2 separate regions of the Homo sapiens genome follow, and region 2 is linked to region 1. The links come from fine-mapping of genetic effects on gene expression. A gene starts in region 1. The other region holds a variant in brackets. All regions are shown on one strand. Distances are between the middles of the regions. Region 1 holds the start of USH1C (USH1 protein network component harmonin). Region 2 overlaps USH1C (USH1 protein network component harmonin).

Evidence for each region. PIP is the estimated chance that this variant, and not a neighbour inherited with it, causes the effect. A credible set is the group of variants that fine-mapping cannot tell apart.
Region 2: its variant is the best candidate, but not a certain one, in a credible set for the expression of USH1C in lung (TOPMed, PIP 0.59).

Annotation. Positions count from the first base shown.
Region 1 is chr11:17,541,731-17,546,117 of GRCh38, reverse strand. It overlaps USH1C (USH1 protein network component harmonin), which reads left to right and starts at 1,702. Exons shown (of 27, transcript NM_153676.4): 1 at 1,702-1,846. The coding sequence starts at 1,811.
Region 2 is chr11:17,508,127-17,512,513 of GRCh38, reverse strand. It overlaps USH1C (USH1 protein network component harmonin), which reads left to right. Exons shown (of 27, transcript NM_153676.4): 16 at 460-612; 17 at 1,993-2,109; 18 at 2,676-3,158. Among named protein-coding and RNA genes, the nearest start is that of ABCC8, 33 kb to the right of the region's middle. The variant C/A (reference allele first, on the strand shown) is at 2,612.

The DNA.
Region 1 (4,387 bases):
AATGGCCAATGTAAAATAAGGATTGGTGTGGCAGGTGAACAGCATTCCCCTGGATAAGGACATTCATTCACCTCTGCCAGGATTCTAAATACAAAATAAACAGCCATATGACATTCTTTTCCAATGTAGAGAATCAATGAAGTAAGTCGGAGGGGAATGCATTTTGTGTGGCCTTTTCTGGACCATTCAAAAATCCCACAAGTCTTTCCATTTTATCGCTGACTTAATAGTTAATGCTAAGGTGAGAAAACAGATCATATTTTAAGGTTCTTCTCCAAGAGGGATTTACATCTTAAACTAGGCAACAAAAATAGTGTGCTTGTAAAACTTCAGCTATTGGGGAGAGGGACGCAGAGGGGTGTTTAGGTGCCCCAGAGTTACAATTGTAAGTGGTTACCTGATGTAAGCTGCTGTCCATCTCCTTGCCCCTGCCCTTGACAGGGCACAAAGGGCTCAGGTGCCTCCCTGGGTTAAGTTCAGGCACAAGCCCCATACTTAGCCTCTGATTTACACATTTTTATCACCCCTCTCCTAGCCCCTCTTTCCTTTCATCTCTTTCCAGGCCTGGTTCATCATTGTCTTTGATGAATCTTTCCTTTCATTCCTTTCCAGGCCTGGTTCATCATTGTCTTTGCACCAAGCACTAGACCTAGGAGTTAAGCAAATGCTGACCAAATTGAATTAAATGAACCAGAGGGTCTGGGCCCTGGGTGAAGGTCAGCCATAGATCAAAATGTCACTGCCAGGCTCTGCCAGGCTTCGATGGATATGTGAGTGTGTTGGGTTTGGGTTTTGTTTTGTCTTGTTTTGTTGGGGGTGGAGGTGTTAGGGAAGGTGGGAGGGGAAATCAGTTGAGGGGGGCACTCTCACACACACTGATTCAGACCCCTGCGGCCCACAGTAAAACCCAGCCCTGTCCCCAAGGAATTCACAGAACAAGGATTGATTTCTCCCTGGTGGAAAAGTGCAGGAGGAAGCCAGGACTGAAGGTACGCTGGAGGTGAGGGCGTAGCAAGGGCTGACAGTCCAGGAGGGCCATGAACCTCGACAAGAGTATCCAGAGAAGGCCGGGCGCGGTGGCCCGCGCCTGTAATCCCAGCACTTTGGGAGGCCGAGGTGGGCAGATCACGAGGTCAGGAGATCGAGACCTTCCTGGCGAACACGGTGAAACCCCGTCTCTACTAAAAATACAAAAAAAAAAAATTAGCCGGGCGTGGTGGCGGGCGCCTGTAGTCCCAGCTACTCGGGAGGCTGAGGCAGGAGAATGGCGTGAACCCGGGAGGCGGAGCTTGCAGTGAGCCAAGATCATGCCACTGCACTGTAGCCTGGGCGACAGAGCGAGACTCCGTCTCGGGGGGGAAAAAAAAAGAATATCCAGAGAAAACGGACTAGATTGCCCCGCCCCCCGCCCGTGTAAATAGTTTCCGTATCTCTCTATTCCGGTCCCCACAAAAAAGTCCCAAACCTCCTCCCTACGTCTCCACGATCTTCTTCCTCAAACGCATGTGTTCAGGTACCACTTCCAGAGAAATACCAGCTTGAAGCCCAGCTACTGCCACCTCAGGCCCATAGGCACACTGGGGCCCATTTGCTCCCAGGCTTCAGTGGGAGGCGACGACTCAGCACCTTCGACTCCAGCCTCGCAGCGGCCCCGCCCCACAGAGGCCTGGCCCCGCCCCTCCGCGCTCAGGCCCCGCCCCCAGCTCCGAGGGCGGCTGGCCCGGTCGCGGTCGCGGCTCTTTCCAGCTCCTGGCAGCCGGGCACCCGAAGGAACGGGTCGTGCAACGACGCAGCTGGACCTGGCCCAGCCATGGACCGAAAAGTGGCCCGAGAATTCCGGCATAAGGTCAGAGCTGCAGGGCGCCCCAGGCTTCTGGGACTCCGGAGTCCTGGGCGCGGTGGGTAGGGGGTGGACACCCCGGCACTGCCCCTCCCTTTTCCGGCCCCACCTGATGGCTCTGGTTGGGCTGGGACACCCGAGGGTCGTCTGGCTGGCAGCAGGGATCCCCAGTAAAGTGAGGGAGGGAATGCGGGGACTCCCGGCTCAAGGACTGCTAAACGAGTCGATCTTCTGCCAGCCTTTCTCCCTCTGCCTTCCAGGGGCAGGGACGTCTCTGGGGTTTGAATTCCTTCCAGTCTTGGCCGCTTTTCTGAGGTGCCCCCTTTGTGGGCAAGCCCCTCTCCTTCCTAGTGCCCCCAGCTCAGGGCTGTTGAGGCATGTGGAGACAGTCTGGGGCAGTATCTGAGAGGTGAGGGTTGGGAGAAGGGAAACTAGACGTCTCTCTCTCTGCCTTTTGACCTCAGAACATGAGTTAGAAGCATTTCAGCCCTGCCTGCCTAAGGGCGTTTCTTAGGGTCTGAGAAGTAGCTGAGGAGCTGGTGCTGACCCGGGTGCGGTGGGGAGGAAGGGAGGAGGTACTGAGGGCGTCGGAGCTGGGCTCTGGCCGGCCAGATCCTTCAGGCAGAGCCGGGTCCACCCTGGTGTGTCCCAGTGAGGGGCCTCACTGGTGGTCTGGGATTCTCAAGGACCATCTCTGGAAGTGGCCAGGTTTCACACAGGGCATTTCGAGAATGATTCACAAAGCTGTGCAGAATCTGCTGAGGCCCTGAGACCAGAGAGGGCCATCAAAGAGATCCAGCCTACTTCCCCACCAAGTCTTAGGATGCCTCTGAGTCTGGGGATGAAGCCGCTTGGGGGGGGTGGGTGGTATCTGGAGCTCCCCACAGGCCCTGCCTGAGGGGCAGGTAACTATTGATAACTTAACTATTGATAACTGTGTGACCCAAGGCTCTCCCAAAGACCCCAGGGGCAGTGTCTTTAGACCAAGCCAAACCTCTTCCTGGTTTGAGAGCTGAGCTCAGGTAGGGCAGGTCAGGGTGCTTAACTCCTTCCTTCCCATAAAGAGGCCCATAGGAGCCCAAGGAGCTAGCCAGTGTAGGGGCCACAGGGGCTTGGGGCCAAGGGCCCGGGGTCAGTTATTCATTTAATAAGCATGTTTTGAGCATCCTCTCAGCCATACCCAGTCTGTGCCCTTTGCTGGTGGTGTAGGTGGGAGGCAGACCCTACCCTGGTAATTACCCATGTCTGAGTGCTGCGTGTTGAGGCCAAGCTTTTGTAGGGGCACAAAGGGACAGCTCAAACTGGCAGAAGGCTCCTGAAAACAAGGTCTTGGGCATTTCTGGTCCTGCTCCCAGGGGTGGGTGATAGCTGGAAGTTCAGCAGGAATTTAGGGGCTGGCGAATACCAAGGGGAGCTTGAGAGAGCATTCACTGTTACATCCTGTTGCAAAGAGACATGTCGGAAGAAATTTCAGCCACTAAGGACATTTTGTGAGTGTAGATTTCAGGCAACCCAGTTTGAAGGAGCTCAGCCTTCCATCCCCCAACCCAAGACTCAGGGTTGAATTTCAGTTTCCTGCCCCTGGCCTGAAATAACATCAGGTCTTCTGCCTTCACTCTGTGGGGTACCTGCTCTCTCTTTTTTGTGAGAATCATCTCCAGGGTCCCTGGTGTCTGATGCAGATCCTGGGTTTGCCCTGTTCCTCTTCCCCAGGTCCCACAGGCTCCAAAGGGCCTCAGACCTCCACGTTTCCTCTGCCCTACTCTTCCTCATCGCAACAGTCATTACTTATTAATATCCCTGTGTGCAGGCAGGGCAGGCGCCATGCGCTAGGCAAGGCCCAGGCTGGACTTTGTGCCCTGCTGCCTTGGAGACAGCCACAGCCTTCCCCTCCCAGGTTGGGGATCATCCAGGAACTGGGGAGAGAGGATGAAGCACAGAGGATAGAAAGGAGGCACACAGACATGCTGGGAGAAATTTACAGCTTGCTGTTGTTTGCTTTGTAGGGGTCCCTTCCTTAGTGTTTTGGAAGAAATGGTTTGTGATCTAAATCCTTAGTTGTTGGAAGTAATATTTAAGGTAGTGTGTTATAATGGAAAGTGCTCTGTGACCTTGAGCAAGTTACTTAATCTCTCTGTGCCTCAGTGCTCTTACTTGTGAAAAGAGATAACAATATTTAACGAATAAGGTTACCATGAATGCTGAATGAGACCTACATGTGTGTGGGGAGCTTAAATAGACCCTGGCACTTAGGGAGCTCTCAAGAAATGTCCATGTTGATTATTATCTGGAGTTAGCAGAACTGGGACCAAATCTTAGCCCTGTCACTGTCAGGAAGACCTTGACCAAGCCACCCACTCTCCCTGAGTTTTAGTTTCTTCAGCTATGAGATGGAGTTTGTAGAACTTACCTCACAAGACAGTCAAAACTAACTAGCAATTAAAGTACTGGCTGCTCTGGGCCCACAGTAACCACACTGTTTCCAGCTGATACCTGCAGAGTGTCCAGTGGGAGCCAACAGGCTCCAGGCATCGACTCCCTTTGATT
Region 2 (4,387 bases), 34 kb after region 1:
CAGATACTGGAAAATCAGCACAATGCCCTTTATTTATATGGCACTTATTTATTTTTTTATTTTATTTTTTATTTATACAGAACTTTTACAAAGTTCTTTCATGGATGTTATTTCATTGGCACTGGGTGGCAAGCCTGTGGGGGAGGTATTTTTACCATTTTGGAGATGAGGCAAATCAGGCCCAGAGAGGTTAAGGAACTTAGCCAAGGCCACACAGCTAGTTAGTGAACTAATAAGCCAGTCTTTCTGGCTGGTAAAGAGAATGTGTCTCCCACTCTGCAGTAGGTAGCAGTGGCCTTCCTGTCCTAAACCTGAGGTCTGATGTCCAGAGTGGTGAGAGAGCTGGGGGAGGGGCTCACCATGGGATGGTTGTGTTATGTGAGGACTGGATGCCCCGTGTGCTGTGCTGTCGACACTATTTCTAACCTTTGTCATATAAACAATGCCACATCTACTCAGAAAGGAAAAGATAAGAAGAAAGCCAAGTATGGCAGCCTGCAGGACTTGAGAAAGAATAAGAAAGAACTGGAGTTTGAGCAAAAGCTTTACAAAGAGAAAGAGGAAATGCTGGAGAAGGAAAAGCAGCTAAAGATCAACCGGCTGGCCCAGGAGGTATGTGTCCTGCCTGCAGGCCAGGCAAGCAACCCTGGGACACAATGTGGTCGTTCTCCATGTGCTCCCAGAGGACCAGCTGGAGTTGTTCTCCTCAAATGGCATACAAGGGTGGAGTGAGCCCTTTCCTGCTCCCCAGCCTGGAGAGAGAGATCATGCCACCTGCCCAGGGCCATCTGAGGTTAGCTCCTGGCTTAGGAATTGAAACTAATCTCCTTGCTTGGGGGTGTGAGTCTTGCTCCTGGCTTTGGAATTGAAACTAGCCTCCTTGGTCGGGGGGTGTGAGTCTGAGGTTAGCCTTTCTGACCAGATGGTAGGTCTCAGGTTAGCCTTTGATACACCTGGCTTAGAGATTTGAGTCTGTCCTCTTCACTCTACCCCACCAGAGTCTAAGGCTGGGCCTCTCCATCTCAGGTGTGGCTCTGAGGCTACTTAGAGTATGGTCTGCGGCTAACCCTTCTGCCTTGCTTGTAGCTTTGAAGTTAGGCTTCCACTGACCTGTCTACGAGTCTGAATCACTCTGGCCTCCCTTCCCAGGTTATTGTAAGACCAGACCCCCCCCCACCCAACTTAGCTTGGCTCTGAGAATATGGGTCTGAGGCTAACCCCCTTATGCAGGTGGTAGGTGCGAGGTTATCTCCCAATTAATCAGGCTATCAGTCTAAGGCTGCTCCCCTCAACATAGGGTGTGTCTAAGGCTAGACCTCATCAACCTGGGAATATATCTGAGGCTGTCCCCATGAAGACATGTCCAAAGCAACCTTACACCATGAATAATTCCTATGCTAGGTGAGATGGGTAACCTTAACTCCCCAGCTGTAGGAGGTATCATTGTTTCTGCTTCTCTTTAACGCATCCATGAATCAGAATGCCAATTTGATTAGATTATAAAACCAGAGAAGTCCTGGAAAATGTGAAATGCATTAGGTCTGACATTATGAACAAATTAGCCACAAAATTAAAAATAAGATTGAACTTATGCTTCTGAGGGCAAGGCAGAATGGAGCAGGAAAAAAAAGAGTCAAGTTAAACTCTTGGAATGTGCTGGGGGAGGCTACAAAAACTCCATTCTTGGAAAATCATAAGAGCCTCAGGGTTCATGGGGATCTGGGATCCAGCTAATCCCTCACAATACATAAGCCCCTTTTCTGATTTTGCCTACAAGTTCTGCTTAGTGAATTTGACACCCCGCCACTCTCTTCTCCCTTGCTGCTGCCTCCTTGAGGGCCAGTTGGAACAAGCCCAGGTCTCTTTCTAGATAGCTGATGCACCTCACAGTACTCTGGAGTTTCTAAAGGAGTGCTTTCATGCTATTTCTATCCACATGTTATTCAAATGTGCCCTTTGTCCTCTCCTTTCTGCGCCGATCCTGGGTCCCAGGTGTCTGAGACAGAGCGGGAAGACCTTGAAGAATCGGAAAAGATTCAATATTGGGTGGAGAGGCTCTGTCAAACGCGCCTCGAGCAGATTTCCTCTGCTGATAATGAGATTTCAGAGGTAACAGAGCCCTTCTTTCCACATAGACCCTCCTGCTGTCTTCAGAATGACCCACTGTGGGGACAGCGGGAGGTGAGATGACAACTAGCAAACGTCACTAGCCTCACAGTGCCCATCCACTGTCCAGGCCCACCCCTACCACCCCACTCCCCTCTTGAGGAGGAGGGATATGTCTGTATTTCTGGGTATACTCCCAGAGTGATCTCTAAGTCCCAGCTCATCTGCGATAGTCTCAGTTAGGCCTGTTGTCCTGGCATCATGACTAAGAGTCCCCCTTACACTCTCAAGGGCATTCCAGTTTAGAGAATGAACTCTGTGAACACCTTACCACCCACAGATGGCATAACTTGGGGCTCTTCTGCATTTGGGCACTCCCTAACAGCAGCCTAGTATGGCCTCAGCTGGGCATCCAGGTGGCAGAGGAATGGCGCCCCATGGTTCTGATGTAAGGGTGGTGGGTCTCCAGTAGCAAGAGAAACAGATTAGAAGAGCATAGTGCTCG[C/A]TGTATTGTGAAGTGGAGCTCTAAGCAGAGTGACAATTACAGAACTTCCTTGCAACACCCCCAGATGACCACAGGGCCCCCGCCTCCCCCGCCTTCTGTGTCTCCCCTGGCCCCACCCTTGAGACGCTTCGCAGGCGGACTGCACCTGCACACCACTGACCTGGACGACATCCCTTTGGACATGTTCTACTATCCCCCCAAGACTCCCTCTGCCTTGCCTGTGATGCCCCACCCTCCACCCTCCAACCCACCCCACAAGGTCCCGGCGCCCCCTGTCCTTCCCTTATCTGGCCATGTGAGCGCCTCATCCTCTCCATGGGTGCAGCGCACTCCACCCCCCATTCCCATCCCTCCCCCGCCATCCGTTCCCACCCAAGACCTCACTCCCACCCGCCCACTGCCCTCGGCGCTGGAAGAAGCACTGAGCAACCATCCCTTCCGCACTGGGGACACAGGCAATCCAGTGGAGGACTGGGAGGCAAAGAACCACAGTGGGAAGCCCACTAACTCCCCTGTCCCTGAACAGAGCTTCCCACCCACCCCAAAGGTAATGTCCCTGTTCTGCATGCTATGTTTGGAAGTAGGAAGAGTGGGGAGAACTGCTGTTTCCCATGTCCTCCACTGCTCCTGAGAGTGGAGACAGAAAGAAACATCATCTCACCCCATTTTCCAGGAATGCCCCCTCCGTGTGCATGTGTGGACATCCTGCATGTATATGGTGGTTCTCACTGATTTTGAAGTGCTGTATTGTATGGTGAATGGCCTGGGACCTTTGGGGTAAGCAACGGTGTGTCCATTTGATATTCATTGCTCTCTCTTAGCTCTTCTTTGCTAGTGTAGGCTGGTAACTTTCAATGTAGGACTTGGAAGTCTATGTTAATGAATAGCCAGCACTCTGTCACATCCAGTCACTTCCTGATATTATCCCAGAAAGCCTTGAATATGGGAAATGGCTCCTGATTTAACGGGAAAAAAAGGGAGGGGAGGAGGAAGCAGGGGCGTATTTGGCTCTGTAAATGAAGTGATAACACTGTACCATCAAATGCAGTATTAGGACATTCCAGTGCCATTTTCTACAGTACTGGCCAACTGCACTGGCTTGAAGTGTAATACCCAGAAATTTCTGGCCAATTTCCAGCTATAGAAAAAATGAAGATGAGAGAGTTCCTAGAAATAATTTACTATTAAAAGAATAGGAATGTTTTTCTTGGATGTTAGGAAGATGAACAGTGTCTTTCTGAAAAAGACATATTTCTTATTAATTATTCGTAATCCAAAGACTATTTTGAAACATGCAATCTCTGAGGAAGACAGGGAGCTTGGATCCCATGAAGGGAAAAACAAAATATTATTCCACTCCCGTAGCCATGAGGCCAGGCTTGAGTCAGTGCAAAGGCATCTCATGTCAGCTGAGGGTAGCAGGGGTTGCTGAGGGAGGGCATAGTCAATAGCACCTGACCAGTGGTTTTTATTAACCTTCCCTGCATGGATTTGAGTTCCTGCGTGGAGAGCAGGACAAGCATCTCAGAGCACTCAGGAGAGCTTACAAGGAAGGTGGGAGTGAAGAAAGTGCCAGATGCCAGCAAGGCTGAAGCTTCCAGCGGGAGACTCTCAGAGGGACCCTTTCTGGACCTCTGGTTGGGGTCGTGAGCCCTGCAGCTTTGACAGGAAGAAATCTGCCTGTTCTCGGGACATCTTTCCCCAGAGCCCAGCCAGGAGCTGGTTTCTAGAGCTGAGTTAGCCTTGCACAACATTTTTCTCTGTAAGTGGCCTCCA